2 separate regions of the Homo sapiens genome follow, and region 2 is linked to region 1. The links come from fine-mapping of genetic effects on gene expression. A gene starts in region 1. The other region holds a variant in brackets. All regions are shown on one strand. Distances are from middle to middle.

Region 1 (8,260 bases):
GATCTTAAATCTGCTGGACACAAGAGTGGGCAAGGGGAGTGGGCACGAGCTCTTTCACCCTAGGGAGTTCCAATGCTCCCGACTAGGTCCAGAAAGGTAGCTGCACCCAGGCTGAGGGTATTATAGACACCAGGCATCCCAGGCAGCTGCGTGGACAGGTGTGCTGGGGAGGAGGAGTGTTTTGTGCTCCAGAAGCAGAGAGACATGAATTTGAATCCCAGCTCTCACACTGATTAGCTGTGTGACTTTGGACACGTTATTTAGCCTCTCTAAGCCTCAGTTTAAACATTTAAGTAAAGTTAGTATATATTTTACTGGGTCGTTGTGAAGGTTAAAATGAGATAAATGTCCTATATTCTAAGACACCCTCCCCCCCGCATTTTAATGTCTGAAATCAGGATATATCTTAAGTGATGGACTTTTCCATTCAATAAAGATGATAGTACCCAACACTGCCTGGCACACAGCAAATGCTTAATTAATGGTGCCAACTGTTATCAGTATTACCTTTAAAACCCACAATAAGACTCATCCCTGTAAGCACAGCCAGACCCCTGCCCTGGGGCTCCATGGATGCTATGTGGGGATCTGAGCAGGTGACCACCTTCCCATTTCAGACACCTTAGTCTCTACTCAGAAATCCAGCTGCCACCCTTCTACCCAACCCCATCTCATAGAACTCACAACAACCTTGTTGGGAGAAAAGGAGGGGATACAGGGGCTTAAAGAGGGGGAAATAACCATATAGCTGGTAGGGGCTGAAATGAAGCCCCAAGGGGGTGGTTGTTTACCCTCGCTATGACTACAGAGTTTCCTGGGACCTCCTCTCTTTGTTGTGGGTGTCCCTAACTCACCCCACGGTGCCTGTCCGGTGCTCCTGGCAGGCGCAGGTGACGCGGGGGTGGAAGTCTTTGTGCCCGTGCAAAGCGGCCTCCTTCCTCAGGCACTTAGTGGGAAGGATGGAAGAGAATGGAGCTTCCTACTCCTGGCCCTTGTCCCGCAGCCAAGCGGCCCGGGTAGGGGTGGAGTGCAGGGACCACCCAGAAGCACCAGGCCTAGCTGGGTGGCAGGGCTGGGCCCAGTCCTCTAACTGGTCTGGTGCCGCCTCCTCCTCGCCCACACCCCGGGCTGTAGACTGAAGCCCGACGTGGCCCCGGCGCCTACCTGGGGCAGCTCCGCCAGGACGCGATCCCTCCGCACGGGTGCCAGAATGTTCATCCTGCCTGCGGCCTTGCAGGGCGCCCTGAGAAGGCGCCGAGGCCGGATCCGCGTCAGCGACCCGGGCGCGTGGAGACCCGACGATCACCCGCGGCCGGGGTGTCCCGACTACAACTCGGGGCCACGGGGACCCTACGGGAGTCCGCGGTCTCGGAGACGCTACGACCACCGCGGGCCACGGAGATGAAACAATCACCCGGGGCCGCGGCGAGCCCAAAATCACCCGGGCCCTGGGCGTCCCGAAGATGACTCTGGGGCGAGGAGACTCTTCGGCCGCCAATTGGGGGCGGGGAGTCCCGTCTGGTGGGGGCCGGGCCCGCGCAGACCCTACGATTACGCGGGGCCGGATAGTTCCTACGATTACGCGGGGCCGGATGGTTCCTACAATAACCCGGGGCCGCGGAGACCCGACGTCATCTCGGGGCTGAGGCTGCCCTACCATTACAGAGCGGCCCGGGGGCGCGGAGCGGCCCCGCCACACGGGGTCAGTGTGGGCAGGGGCGGCGCTGCCAAGGCCCGCAGGCCGCTGGAGGAGGGGGCGAGGGGCCCAGTCCGGCTACAGGGCCTCGAGTCCCACTCCGCTCGGGCTCCGCCAACGCTGTAACACGATCCCCGGAAATTCCTGGAGAAGGGCCGCCCCCCGCCCCTCTCCTGGCGGCTCCAGGCCTCGCTGCCCGCCCTCGCCACCCCCTCCTCTCCACCCTTCTGCGTTGCCCCGCTCAGGCTCCCTCTTTTGACGCTTCACCGGGCACCAGGACCGCCCCGACCCAGGCTGGAGCCTATCCAGATAGGGACTCCCCAGGCTGCTCTCCCCTGCACCTCTATACCCGGCTGCGCCTTCATGGGGACCCTTACCCAGCCGAATTGGTGATGGGGAATCGGAGACTGCTGCGCAGCATCTGGCGATGCCAGGAACCAGCAGGGAGGGGAAAGGGGGAGAGAAGGGGCCCAAGGAGAGGCGGCGCTTCCCTCCTCAACTCCAGGCCTGGGAGGTGACTCATAGAGTCTGCCCCCTCTCGCCCTTCTGCCCTGGGAGGTCGGGGGTGAGGATGGTGGAGGGGAAGCGTGCGAAGGGGGTGCCAGGGTTAGAATGAGGTGCCCACCGAGGAGAGAGACGTCTGAAGTCTGGCGTCTTTTCCTTCAAGGCTGCTGTGTAGATTGTGAGGTGGGAGGGCTGAAGATCAAGTTCCCTCGAGGGAGGTTAAAGAAGGGCTAAGTGGACCCGGAAACTCTGCTCTTCGGGGTGGTCTCCGCTCTGGGAGGCGGGGACTCCCCTCTGGTATGGGTGTTCATTGTTCTGGCCCCATTGGAATCTATCCCCCAGGGACAACTCCTTTGTGCAAAGTCCTGCAGGATAGAAGAGGGGGCAGTGCACAATCAATTTCACCGTCAAAGGGGACATGTCTGGTTTTATGAAGGGAGAGGGAAGAAGAAAGGATCAAGTGGGGATGGGTTAGGCACACACCTTAGGAGAAGCGAACCTGAGTGTTAAGAAACCTTTCTCTGTGTCTGGAGCTGAATTTGAGGATGTAAAGATGACCAGGACACGGAAGGGAAGACTAGTTTAGGGCAGGGGATTGTGAGTGAAGTTACTAACCGGAAAAACTAGCGAATCTTGGAGAAATGTGTGGAATTTTCATAGAACTTCAAATGCATTATCAGGAAACGCAGTAAAACTTGACAGTATCAGTGTCGCAGGTAAAGAGGGGCAGGTGTGGCCGCCTTGTACTTCCTCTGACACTTCCCCCTCGTGACTCGATTATTTATTTATTTATTTATTTATTTATTTTGAGACAGGGTCTCACTCTGCCACCCAGGCTGGAATGGCTCATTGCAGCCTCGACCTCCAGGGCTGAAGCGATCCTCCCACCTCAGCCTCCCAAGGAACTGGGACTACAGGCACGCACCACCACGCCCGGCTAATTTTTGTATTCTTTTGTAGAGACAGGGTTTCGCCGTGTTGCCCAGGGTGGTCTCGAACTCCTGGGCTCGAAGCAATTCGTCCACCTCGGCCTCACAAAGTGCTGGGATTACAGGCGTGAGTCACCGCGCCCGGCCCTGACTTGATTTTTTTCTGCCACCAAATCACTGTGTTATTGATAAACCACATTCCTCTCTGGACCTCAGTTCGACCGAGCAAATCCTGCTCCAGCACTCTAGAACTTAGCTGTATCTAACTCCCGAGTCAATCCAAATGTGTTCTTTCCTCTTGGCAGCGTTCCTGCCTCCTGGCATGGCAATCCTCTTCCCTGAGACTGGCAGTTGCTCAAGATAGGAAGCTCCCGGGACCAGACCCGAGCGCCAGCCGGCTACGCCGTCCGCTGGCCTGAGCAAATAAACGCGTGTCTTCAAAAAACTACAATCCCCATGGTGGCACGCGCCTGTAGTCCCAGCTACTCTGGTGGCTGAGGCAGGAGAATGGCGTAAACCCGGGAGGCGGAGCTTACAGTGAGCCGAGATCGCGCCACTGCACTCCAGCCTGGGCGACAGAGCGCTCAAAAAAAAAACAAAAAACAAAAAACAAAAAACTACAACCCCCATGAAGCTTTAGTGCCTTTGAGGGGAGGAGTGGCGCATGTTTGTTCACGCACGAAAAAGAAATTAAACCTAACTACCGTTCCCAGAGGGCGCCGCTCTGCAAATTACCCAATCAGCTCTAAGTACAAAGCATCGCGAGTCTTTAGTGCTCTTTGGCGCTATAAGCCCGTGGGAACGAGCATTGGAGACCCTTTTCACAAGATGGCGCCGAAAGCGAAGAAGGAAGGTGTGTGTTGGTGATGGGGCCGCAGCTGGTTTACCGGGGATTGCCGCGCCGCAGAGCGAACGAATTGGGAACACGGCTGCTGGGCTAAGCCCTGAGGGCTCTGCTCCGGGGCTGCTCCCTGCGTTTCGGACACGCTGCAGTATACGTGGGCCGCGTGGGCCCAGCCTCGTGGGCTGAGTTCCGGTAGAGGGAGTTGGGGGGGGGCAACGCGGCAGGCATCATCCGCCAGGGAGGGCCAGACATTCGGTTCTGGGAAGCTACATGCATCCACTGGTTGGAGCTCCATGTCCCCGGGCCTGTAAGGAATTAGTGCCCTCAGCTTTAACCATTTTCCTTCTGGTTCATGTTCAACCGGGCTACATTACCCGCCCCTCTCTCCGCAGCGTGGTTTTGCGATGGGGTATGTGTAAAATTCGTAGGACATTTTCTGGAAAGTATCAAGCGTTCATTCAGTGCTACTTTGTTTCATAGTCGTATCCCTGGAGTTACTTAGAGTTGGTCGCTTTCGCCTCTGGTATCGTGCATATGATGGAAAAGTTTTAATCTCCTGACACTTGTGATGTCTTCAAAGGAACCACTGATGCACCTGTGGCCAGGGTGGCCCACTGCAGTTCTTGGGGCCGGAAGTGACCGATTTCTAAATCCCGCACCCACGTTTTCTTTCCTTTTCTCCCAGCTCCTGCCCCTCCTAAAGCTGAAGCCAAAGCGAAGGCTTTAAAGGCCAAGAAGGCAGTGTTGAAAGGTGTCCACAGCCACAAAAAGAAGAAGATCCGCACGTCACCCACCTTCCGGCGGCCGAAGACACTGCGACTCCGGAGACAGCCCAAATATCCTCGGAAGAGCGCTCCCAGGAGAAACAAGTCAGTACTGCCCCCTGTACCCATGAAAAGATTTGGGTATTCTCCATTGGTAATTTGGAAATTCACTCACTCTGCGTGATGGTTTCTCAAACGCAAATTGTGTCCAGTGTGCTTCTCTAATTGGAAGTATGAGGAGATTGTTTCTGCTGCATTTACAAAACTGGCAGGATCAGCCCAGAGGCCGGGCGCGGTGGCTCACGTCTGTAATCCCAGCACTTTGGGAGGCCGAGGGGGGGCGGATCACTTGAGGTCAGGGGTTCGAGACCAGCCTGAGTGACATGGAGAAACCCCGCGTCTATTAAAAATAGAAAATTCGCCGGGCATGGTGGCGCATGTCTGTAATCCCAGCTACTCGCGGGAGGCTGAGGCAGGAGAATCGCTTGAACCCGGGAGGTGGAGGTTGCGGTGAGCGGAGATCGTACCATTGCATTCCAGCCTGGGCAATAAGAGTGAAACTCTGTCTCAAAAAAAAAAAAACCCTGAGTCTCTCAAAATTTGTTAGGTTAATTATTGCTTCACATGTGGTCACGGTTTGAAAACTTATTTTGGGGGGAGTATAAAGTAGAATACAGAGATTCCTTGCTCATAGCTCCTACTGCTATCGGGAACAATCCTTGAGGGTGAGAACGTGGATTGATTCTTGATTGATAGTGGGGATTCCATTATCTGTATTTGGCAGTTATGGCCTGCTGCGGTGTATAGAAGCTTCTTTCCATTCATTTTCCCGAATTTTCATACTGCTCAAGGAACAGTTGGGGGGGAATGGGCAGAAGGTTGGGCACTTGAGTATTTGAGCTATCGGTAATAACTGACTTTTTAGGGAGCACAGATTTGAGTAGAGCCATGGTAGTAGTTAGTACCAATGGGTTTTTGCTGCTTCTACTCTTTCTTAACAGAAAAAGTGGATTGTGTTCATATAGGAAAGCAGTTCACAGACTGTCTTCCTGCCCCTCCCGCCACCAAGCTGGACCTAGAATCAAGTGTGACTTTAAATGGGGAAAGCTGTGTTACAGTTGTGCTTAAGCCACTGCTGTGGCTTAACCTCACCTATGCATAAGAATTTGCTCGTGGCTGGCCGGGCGCGGTGGCTCGAGCCTGTAATCCCAGCACTTTGGGAGGCTGAGGCGGGCGGATCACGAGGTCAGGAGATTGAGACCATCGTGGCTAACACGGTGAAACCCCGTCTCTACTAAAAATACAAAAAAAATTAGCCGGGCGTGGTGGCAGGCGCCGCTAGTCCCACTACTGAGTCCCAGGCTGAAGCAGGAGAATGGTGTGAACCCAGGAGGCGGAGCTTGCAGCGAGCCGAGATCCTGTCACTGCACTCCAGCCTGGGCGAAGCGAGACTCTGTCTCAAAAAAAAAAAAAAAAAAGGAATTTGCCCCTGGCCCGATTCTCCTGCCTCAGCCTCTTGAGTAGCTCGGACTACAGGCGTGCACCACCATGACCAGCTAATTTTTGTATTTTTAGTTGAGAGGGAGTTTCACCATGTTGGCCAGGATGGTCACGATCTCTTGACCTCGTGATCAGCCTGCCTCAGCCTCCCAAAGTGCTGGGAATACAGCCATGAGCCAGCACACCTGGCCCAGAGATGATTCTTTAATCACTTGAGGTTGTAAGAGCCCTTCAAGAGAAAGAAAATGCACAACGTTCTGCCCCTGGGATTGGGGCTTCAGGCCCTTAGATTTCAGGGTGCAGATGATGACACTGTAAAGCGACCAAAGTCTGAACAAAGTGATTGGTACCTCGTTGTCTGATGCACCTAGGCTCTCCTGGCTCTGGGCTCCAAAAGAATGGGCCCAGGCCAGGTGACCCCATTTTGCCTCTCCCAGGCTTGACCACTATGCTATCATCAAGTTTCCGCTGACCACTGAGTCTGCCATGAAGAAGATAGAAGACAACAACACACTTGTGTTCATTGTGGATGTTAAAGCCAACAAGCACCAGATTAAACAGGCTGTGAAGAAGCTGTATGACATTGATGTGGCCAAGGTCAACACCCTGATTCGGTGAGTTGGGCCTCAAGGGATGGGGAGCAGGCTGGACCAGCAGTCTGGAGCCAAAAAAACCTGCATTCCATGAAGCTTTTTGATGTTTAGGTAGTCCTGGTAATGCAGGACTACACGTGTAGTCCGAGCTATGCAGGAGGATCTCTTGAGGCCAGGAATCACCCATGATTGCCCCATTGTACTCCAGCCTGAGCAACCAAGCAAGGCCCTTTTTAAAAAAAAAAAAAAAAAAAATCCCCTGGACCTTTCAGCAGGGGAAAAAGGTTCCTTGACTTAAACTTGGTGTAGGTTTAGCAGTGTGTGTGAGCCTTGAGGCAGGAATTACAGGCTGCTTTAGTTACAGACCTTTGTGTGGACCTGAGGCTTTCTAGGACTTGATTGGGGGTTGGTCCTCATTTTCTGGGTCCCTACTTCTATTGGGAAAGGCAACTAGAGTGCGACACGTGGCAGATTACCTTGGTTTAAGTCTTAATGTGGCCTGTGGTGTTTCCCATAAGAGAATTGGCTTTGTGGCTTCATGGTGTCCTCTGGGCTAATGATGGAAAAATCATTATTGGAAAAGAATGACATGAACAAAGGAACCACTGAAGTGCCGGAGGACTGGAGGAGGAAGGGGGAGGGTGTGGGGGCAGTGAGGGTGGCAGGGACTAAGGCTTCCTTCTCTACCCTAGGCCTGATGGAGAGAAGAAGGCATATGTTCGACTGGCTCCTGATTACGATGCTTTGGATGTTGCCAACAAAGTAAGTTTCCTTCCTACAAACCCCTTAATGCTCACCCCTTGGGTGCAAATGATGCATATGTTAGCGACCAAAGCCTGATCTTTGCTGATTAGTCATAATTAACTGACTGCACCCCTATCCTTGACAAACCTTATCCTCACATTCCTCATTTTGCTTTCTAAAAATAACATTCCAGCTTAATCTTCATATTTCAACTCCAGTAACGAGGCTCCCTTTTGTTTTTCAGATTGGGATCATCTAAACTGAGTCCAGCTGCCTAATTCTGAATATATATATATATATATCTTTTCACCATATACATGCCTGTCTGTCAATTTCTGGTTGGGCTGGGAGGCCACACACACACACTGACATGACAGGGCTTGGGCAAGACTCCTGTTCTACTTATCCTTTTGAAATACCTCACCCTGCCACTCCACCATGTATGATCATTCCAGAGATCTTTGTGACTAGAGTTAGTGTCCTAGGAAAACCAGAACTCAGAACTTGCCTCCATGGTTGAGTAACAAGCTGTACAAGAACCCCTTTTATCCCTGGAAGAGGCTGTGTATGAAACCAATGCCCAGGGTTTGAAGGGTGTTAGCATCCATTTCAGGGGAGTGTGGATTGGCTGGCTCTCTGGTAGCATTTTGTCCTCACACACCCATCTACTATGTCCAACCGGTCTG
Region 2 (8,394 bases), 180 kb before region 1:
AGGTTGGCCCCAGGCTTATAGGAGGCATAAGCAGATCCCGCGATGGCTTGTCATTGTCCCCTGTCCTGGAACAATAAAGCAAGTGCCTTGTGGTCTCACTACCAAGCTTTCATTTCTGGCCCCTCTCCCTAAGCAAAATGGCCAGGCCACACTGATGGCAGATGCCCTGGGCCTGTGACGTCCCTGTCACCCTCACCCAGAACTAGGAAGTTTCTAATCCAAAGAGTGAGGCATCTAGGAAAACTTCTTGACCCACTGGGGAGGCTGAGGAGCAGGTGAGCAGGGCCTCTTCCCAGGAGAACTTCCAAAGAGATGCAGGGAAGAGGCTGCCCTGGCCAGAGGAATGGAGGGGATGCCCTCCCCCAGACCCCTTGCCTCTGAGGTCTGCCCACTCCCTCTTTGCACCCCCATCTCCTCACACAAGAAGGAGTTGCTGCCCTGTCCAAACTGTGCCTTTCTGCTTCCAATCTGTCCCTGGCTGAAAGAGATGCCAAGTGGTTTGGGGCCCTGAGTTCCACAGGTGACAAAATGGAGCATGCCCTGGTGCTGTGTGCACTGCTGGTCCTGGAGAGTGGTCTCTGGATGGTCAGGGGCTCACTCAGTCCCACTTCAGACTCACCCCCTAGGTGTCACCTCCAGGTGGGGTTGGTGTCACCGCAGCACTGTCTCAAGAGAGATGGGGCAGATGTGGGAGCCAAAAGCACATACATGATCCCCAGGTCCCAGAGCAGCCACAAGTGGTGTCTCTGCTTAGAAAGCTCTTCTTGGATGAAGGCTGGGCACGGTGGCTCACGCCTGTAATCCCAGCACTTTGGGAGGCCCAGGCAGGCAGATTACCTGAGGTTGGGAGTTCAAGACCAGCCTGGCCAAAATGGTGAAACCTCATCTCTACTAAAAATACAAAAATTAGCTGGGCGTGGTGGTGGACGCCTGTAATCCCAGGTACTCAGGAGGGAGGCTGAGGCAGGAGAATCGCTTGAACCCGGGAGGCAGAGGTTGCAGTGAGCCGAGATTGGACCACTGCACACCAGCCTGGGCAACAGAGTGAGACTCTGTCTCAAAAAAAAGAAAAGAAAGCACTTCTTGGATGGCTAGGCACAGTGGCTCATGCCTGTAATCCCAGCACTTTGGGAGGCCGAGATGGGTGGATCACTTGATATCAGGAGTTCGAGACCAGCCTGAGCAACATGGTGAAACCCTGCCTCTGCTAAAAATACAAAAATTAGCTGAGTGTGCTGGTGGGCACCTTTAATCCCAGTTACTCAGGAGGCTGAGGCAGGAGAATCACTTGAACCTGGGAGGTGGAAGTTGCAGTGAGCTGAGATTGTGCCACTGCACTCCAGCCTGGGTGACAGAGTGAGACTCTGTCTCATAAAAAAAACAAAGCTCTTCTTGGGGCTGGGCCCAGGGGGCCAGCCAACACCTACCTCTGAGAGGATAGGTCTGCAAAAGACCCCATAATAGAACCCCACCTACCCCAGCACCCGCCCCAGCAGAGGCTGGAAGGCTAGATGCAGGGCTGGTGGGCTGAGGTAGGATAGGGAGTGGGGAAGGCATGGCCAGCGGGTGCACCCAAGAGGAAGGCCCACCTGCCCCAGCCTGGCCCTGGCTGTGTAGGAAGCAGGTGCAGGCTCTTTGCCAAGACCTCAGGCGATGTTGCACACCAGCTCTGTCCAACCCTGGGCCTGTGTCTTGATGACATCCAGGCCCCCAAACACAGGGCAAATGTTTCCTGGGAGAATCCTATTGGGACCCATTTGCTTGCCTCGGGTCCTGAGACTCTGAGAGCTCAGACAAACCTGCCTTATATACCCAGGCTAGGCCATCTCCTCCAGGAGACCCTCTGTCAAAACTCTGGCCAGTGGGCACATTCAGCACACCTGTGTGTGAACTGGCCCCTAATGCAAGAAGACAGGTAGCAAGCAGGTAGGACTTGGGTCTAGTTTTGTGTGTGTGTGTGTGTGTGTGTGTGTGTGTGTGAGAGAGAGAGAGAGAGAGAGAGAGAGAGAGAGTGTAACCAGGCCCTCAGACTTTTTTTAACTGGGCCTCAGTTCCACCCTGAAATGAGCCCCACACTCCCACTCATATGCTGCCCCCTGCTGGCCACCCCATACCAAGCATATAGCCATTATTAGAGTGAGCAACCATCTTTTTAATTTTATTTTTCTAAGTAAATATGGGGTCTCGCGATGTTACCCAGGCTAGTTTTGAACTCCTGAGCTCAAGTGATCCTCCCACTTCAGCCTCTGTTAGGTGCTGGGATTACAGGCGTGGGCCACCGCACCCACCTAATGTTTGTATTTTTTGTAGAGGTAGGGTCTCACTATGTTGCCCAGGCTGGTTTCAAATTCCTAGGCTCAAACAACGCCACCTCCTTGGCCTCCCTAAGTGCTAGGATTACAGGCATGAGCTACCACACCTGGCCAGGGTGAGCAACAATTTGTCTGAATGGATGCAGCGTCTTCAAGTCCGTTATTTGGAGGGAATTAATCCTTTTGCTCAGGGATTCTAAATGTGAGAGATCTCAAATGGATTAGAATTCCCAGGTCAGGAACTTGCATGAAAAAGTTACATCTTCATTTTCTCTCATCCTTACCTGAAATCTAGAATTTCCCTCTATTGTGAATGTCAGCAACAAATCACACTAGCATTGGCAATACCTGTGACTTTGTCAATAGAAATCACAGATATTTTGTAATTGTATTATAGATAGTACAAAATATGTACAAATATATACACATGCACACACATATACACACACATAAAGTAATTTGTCGCTTAACAACAGACATACGTTCTGAGAAATGTGTCCTTAGGCAATTTTGTCATTGTGCAAACATCATAGAGTTTACTCACACGAACCTAGATGGTAGAGCATACTGCACACCTAGAGGCTCTATGGGATAGCCTATTGCTACTAGGCTACAAACCTGTGTGGCATATTAGTGTGCTGAATTCTGTAGGCAATTGTAACACAATGCCTATGTGTGTTTCTACAACACATAGAAAAGGTACAGTAAAAAATACAGTATTGGCCGGGCACGGTGGATCACACCTGTAATCCCAACACTTTGGGAGGCCAAGGCGGGCACATCACTTGAGGTCAGGAGTTCAACACCAGCCTGGCCACCAAGGCGAAACCTCATCTTTACTAAAAATACAAAAAATTAGCCAGGCGTGGTAACACACGCCTGTAATCCCAGCTACTCAGAAGGCCAAGACAGGAGAATCTCTTGAACCCAGGAGGCAGAGGTTGCAGTGAGCCAAGATTGTGCCACTGCCCTCCGGCCTGAGAGACAGATCAAGACTCCGTCTTAAAAAACATATATATATATATATATATATATATATATATACAGTATTATAATCTTATGTGACTGTCGACATATATGTAGTCTGTCATGACAGACACATCGATATCTAGTGCATGATTGTAGATACACACACACACACACACAGTCATCTCACAGTGGTTCCAGGGCCTCCCACAAATTCCAAAATCCATGAATGTGCAAGTAAGTCCCTGATATAAAATGATGGAGTATTTGCATATAACCTACACACATCCTCCCGTATACTTTAAATCATCTCTAGATTACTTATAATACTTAATACAATGTAAATCCTTTGTCAATCATTGTTATACTGTACTATTTAAGGACTAATGACAAGACAAATGTCTGCACATATTCAGTACAGACATTTCTGATGCACAGTTGGCTGAATTCACAGATGCGGAACCTATGGCCAATTGTATATAGTTTTTAATACATAAAATAAATAGGATAGGCCTGGCAGGGTGGCTTACGCCTGTAATCCCAGCACTTTGGGAGGCCAAGGCAGGAGGATCA[T/C]GAGGTCAAGAGATCAAGGCCATCCTGGCCAACATGGTGAAACCCCACCTCTACTAAAAATACAAAAATTAGCTGGGTGTGGTGGCATGCACCTGTAGTCCCAGTTACTCGGGAGGCTGAAGCAAGAGAATCGCTTGAACCTGGGAGGCGGAGGTTGCAGTGAGCCGAGATTGTGCCACTGTACTCCAGCCTGGCAACAGAGCGAGACTCTATCCCAATAAATAAATAAATAAATAAATAAATAAATAAATAAATAGGATAACAATATATTTTATGTTCCTAAAATCCTTTTTATTGTCCATAGGCTTTAGCAGACTGACAACAAGAGAGTCTGTGACACATAGAAAAGTAAAGCAAGGGGCTGGGCCTGTAATCCCAGTAGTTTGAGAGGCAAAGGCAGAAGGATTGCTTAAGCACAGGAGTTCGAGACCAGACTGGGCAACATGGCAAAACCCTATCTCTACAAAAAATTAGCTGGGTATGGTGGCACATGTAGCTTCTGTAGTCTCAGCTACTTGGGAGACGAGGTAGGAGGATTGCTTAGGCCCAGGAGTTTGAGGCTGCAGTGAGCCATGATTGTGCCACTGGACTCTGGCCTGGACAACAGAGCGAGACCCTGACTCAAAAAAAAAAAAAAGGGTAATGTCCTTGCTTTAGTTGCCAGATGGTGGGGAAGTGGAGGGTGACTCTTAGGGGAGGGGCCAGGCTAGGGCGGCCTGGGACAGCAGCTTTTTAACAGCTGGAAGGGAAGATCTTAGTATTTTAACCACTGGTTTGGCAGTCCCAGTGAGCACCTTGCCGGCCAGCCCAGGAGGGCACGAGCTGTGGGTTTCCCTGTGGTACTTGGGCTTTCCTTCTCTACCCAGGGGCAGGATCCTCATGACACCCCTAAAGAGTCAAAGCAGGCCAGGCACGGTGGCTCAGGCCTGTAATCCCAGCACTTTGGGAGGCCGAGGCGGGCAAATCACCTAGGTCAGGGGTTCAAGACCAGCCTGGCCGACATGGTGAAACCCCGTCTCTACAACAATACAAAAATCAGCCGGGCATGATGGCTGGTGCCTGTAATGGGTCCAGCTACTTGGGAGGCTGGGGCAGAAGAATCACTTGAACCCGGGAGGCAGAGGTTGCAGTGAGCCGAGATCATGCCATTGCACTGCACCCTGGAGATCATGCCATTGCACTTCACCCTGGGCGACAGAGCGTGACTCCTTCTCAAAAAAAAAAAAAAAAAAAAAAGAGTCAAAGCAAAAATGACTGGCCCATTTCAGAGACAAAAGGGAATTGCCCCTTCAAGGTCAACAGCTCATCAACATCAGAGCCAAGACTAGCCCCACCTCCACCCTGTCTTCCTCCCAGGCAGCCTCTAGGTTCCTAGGGACAGTGCCAGGAACTAAATGCAGCAAGATGTACCATTTGCAATAGGACTAGTGCCAGAGGCATGAAGACTTAAAAGAAGGCATGGGGCCAAGGCTTTTCCCAACCTAGGCTCCTCCAAGCCCAAGGAACGCAGGCCTCTTTTCAAGGTGAGTGCCAACTGGGTGCCTACTTCAGAGATGAGAACCTCAGAATAGGGACCCTCCTCTCTCTCTGAAGATGGAAGTGCAGCAGGCCCAATCTAGAACCTCAACCCAGTTTTACTTAGCAGCTGCAGTGAGTAGAACTATTATCAGGGTATTGGGAAAAGGTCCTCTTCCTTGCTATACCTTCTCTGCAGACTTGTAACCCCATAAACTACAACAGCAAAATCACCCCTATACTGGCCTTTCTTTCATACCTGTACAGCCTCATCTGCAAACAAATCCCTCCCTTCCACATTCTTGTCCTCATTCTCCTTCTTTACCTTTGTGGCAACTGATAGTTCCTGCCCACTTGCTTTGTGATGAAATTCTTTCCTCCAAAACATGGCTCTGCTCCCACCTCCCTGGAGGCTCACTCCTCCTGTCTCCATTGTTTCCTTTCCTTCCGCCCTGCTCTCAAACACTGGCCTTCCCTAAGGTGATACATTCTCGTTCAGGCACCCTCAATTAGGGGATGGGGATTTGTATTATAATAGCATTGTTTGGGAGAATCCCAGTAATTGCAGGACATTTGGCATTCCTAAATAACAAGAGTGTCAGTGGAGGACCCCATGATCTCAGCCACCATCATAGCTTCAGAAATCACCTTGTGGCCGATGGCCTCGACAATCACCACCTCCAGCCCTTATTCCCCTCCTGGTCTTAGGGCCCACCTTTCCTGTCTTCTGGTAATTTCCTCCATGCCACAGCATGTCCCAGTCTGAAGTCACCCTCTCCTGCTGGCATCCACCTTGATCCAACCTGCATTCCCAAACCCAGTGATGGCACCTGTAGCTACCCCAGCACCCAGGCCACAAACCAGGCAGTCAGCCTCACCTCCTCCCTCTCTCCAACCCACTCATCCAATCAGCCACCACTCCTGAGGATCTCACCTCTTAAAAATATCAGTTTCACCTGTTTCTCTCCATCTTTGAGGATACTGACCTAATTCAGTTTCTCTTTCTCTCTCACCAGATTCCTGCAGCACCCTCCTCATCCTCACTGCCCCCCTGCCTTTAGTATGGTAGTGCATGGAGCCGGACTGCCTGGATTCAAGTCCTGGCTCTGCCACTTCATAGCTGTGCAACGTTGGCTGGGTACATTAACCTCTCTGGACCTACATTTTCTGTAAAATGGGCATCATAATAGTGCCTTCCTCAGAAATGACCATGTTTATGAGTTAACACATGTAGAGCACCCAGCCTGGCACTCAGTAAATCTTGGCTATTAGTGTCATTCTTTCCAATCCACCATTCACTCAGCAGCCAGAGATAATCTGACCAGGTCATGCCCACTTAATCCTCCACAGGGGCTCCCCACTTCTCAGAAGCCCTGCTCCTAAGGCTCTGCCAATCTGTCTTCTTTTCACATCATATTGACTCTTGAACACACCTAGGCTTATGCCCATAATCCTGGCACTTTGGGAGGCCAAGGCAGGAAAATCCCTTGAGCCCAGGAGTTTGAGAGGGAGACCCCATCTCAAATAAATAAGTAAACAAACAAACAAACACCTGACAAATCTTGCCTCTGAGCCTTTGTTTATGCTGTTCCCTGTGCCTAAGCACTCTTCCCCATCAATTTCCATCACAAGCACCTGCTCCAGTGCTACCTCCTCTAAAAATCCTCCCCAGAACCCTCCACACAGAACGACTCTGATTCTTGCTCTCCGTGTCCCCAGTCCTTTTTTTTTCCCTAGGGACGAGTATGTGTTCCTTGTGTCTCACTCATTTCAGAATTCCCAGAATTCAGTGCAGATCCTAGCTCCACCCCACTTCCCCCAGCAAGGGCTTCACAGAATCAAGCTGAATGCCAGCACTTCTGGGCCTCCTAGGGCCAGAGCTCCTCAGCCCAGAGGGTGCGTCAGCTCTGGGCATATCTGAAGGAGGGCCTGAAACTGTAGGGTGTGCTCTCTGCCCACCTCAGTTCCTGAATTTCCTCCATTAAGCAGCCCCCTCCTCTGAGTCTGGGGTGGGGGTGGAGGCTGAGGGCAGTGTTATGTGCAGGGCTACCCAGGCATGGGGGCTCCCCAAGGCAGCTGAGGGCAAGGAGATGGCTCCAGGCCTTAGCCAAAGCCCTGCCACCGTCTATCATGAGGGCTAAAAACACAACCCAGTGGTCCTAGTGGCCTCTGGGGTTCAGGGAAGGTAGCGTGGAGGACAAGGCCAAACCCCCACCCCCCACACCTTCCCCTTGCACCCTGGAGTTCAGGGCCTTTGTTTCGGCCTCTGTTCTGCCAGGGTTGGCTCTGACTTTGGGCCAAAGCTTCCCCTCTCAGGGTCTGGGTCTCCTTCATCACAAGAAAGACCCTCTCCAGCTCCATCATGTTCTAAATGCTGACTCTATATGGTGTCAGGGTACAGAGAATCAGGGGACAGGAAGACTAAGGGGTGAGAGTGCACTGGAATGTGGGAGGTAGGAGAAATTTTTACTGCCTTAAGCACATTCCTGCCTATCCCTGCTCCCTTCTTTGCCCATACACACAGAGGCTGGCCACACCAGAGAACAGAAAAGGAAAAAGTTTATTGAAAACTATATACAGTTGGTCCAGCTCCTACCATGGGCTGCAATCTCAGCCAGTCCCTCCCACACCTTAGGCAGTGTCTTGGCCCCTCATGGGGAGGGATGGGGCTAGGCCTAGGGCCCAGACTCCCTTGGGTGGCTTGGCAGCTGGAGCCCACCGTGGATCTTTGTAAATTTACAACTCTAAATGGCCTGAAGGTAGTGGGCAGGGGACAGGGAATGGATCCCTGCCTGATCTAGTCACAGCCTTGATAGGGGAACACTATTCTGAAACTTGGGCCCAAGTAGGGCCCAGCTAAGTTGTCCGGAAGTCCTGACTGCTCCTCTCACAGGCCTTCCTAGACGTGGAGGCAAACAGCCTCCCTACGACCCCACCCCATGTAGCAGGCCGCATGGGCTTCATGGGCTTGACTGGGGACACCAGGTACCCTTCCTCCCAACATTGACTCAGGGTCCGGAGCTCCTGG

The links. PIP is the estimated chance that this variant, and not a neighbour inherited with it, causes the effect.
Region 2: its variant is fine-mapped to the expression of RPL23A in whole blood (TOPMed, PIP 0.96).

The regions. Positions count from the first base shown.
Region 1 is chr17:28,716,049-28,724,308 of GRCh38, forward strand. RPL23A (ribosomal protein L23a) reads left to right here and starts at 3,937. Exons shown (of 5, transcript NM_000984.6): 1 at 3,937-3,982; 2 at 4,659-4,842; 3 at 6,675-6,851; 4 at 7,523-7,592; 5 at 7,819-8,260. The coding sequence starts at 3,958. The coding sequence ends at 7,833. It overlaps RAB34 (RAB34, member RAS oncogene family), which reads right to left and starts at 1,820. Exons shown (of 10, transcript NM_031934.6): 1 at 1,165-1,820; 2 at 855-946; 3 at 1-10. The coding sequence starts at 1,218. SNORD42B (small nucleolar RNA, C/D box 42B) reads left to right here and starts at 4,502; the gene lies at 4,502-4,568. It overlaps SNORD4A (small nucleolar RNA, C/D box 4A), which reads left to right and starts at 6,534; the gene lies at 6,534-6,605. It also overlaps SNORD42A and SNORD4B. RefSeq lists silencers at 1,653-1,912, 8,224-8,260 and enhancers at 2,593-3,193, 3,194-3,795, 3,452-3,501, 3,932-4,151, 4,492-4,651.
Region 2 is chr17:28,538,800-28,547,193 of GRCh38, forward strand. FOXN1 (forkhead box N1) reads left to right here. Exons shown (of 9, transcript NM_001369369.1): 9 at 1-101. UNC119 (unc-119 lipid binding chaperone) reads right to left here. Exons shown (of 5, transcript NM_005148.4): 5 at 7,909-8,394. Among named protein-coding and RNA genes, the nearest start is that of UNC119, 9.6 kb to the right of the region's middle. RefSeq lists an enhancer at 8,135-8,394. The variant T/C (reference allele first, on the strand shown) is at 3,852.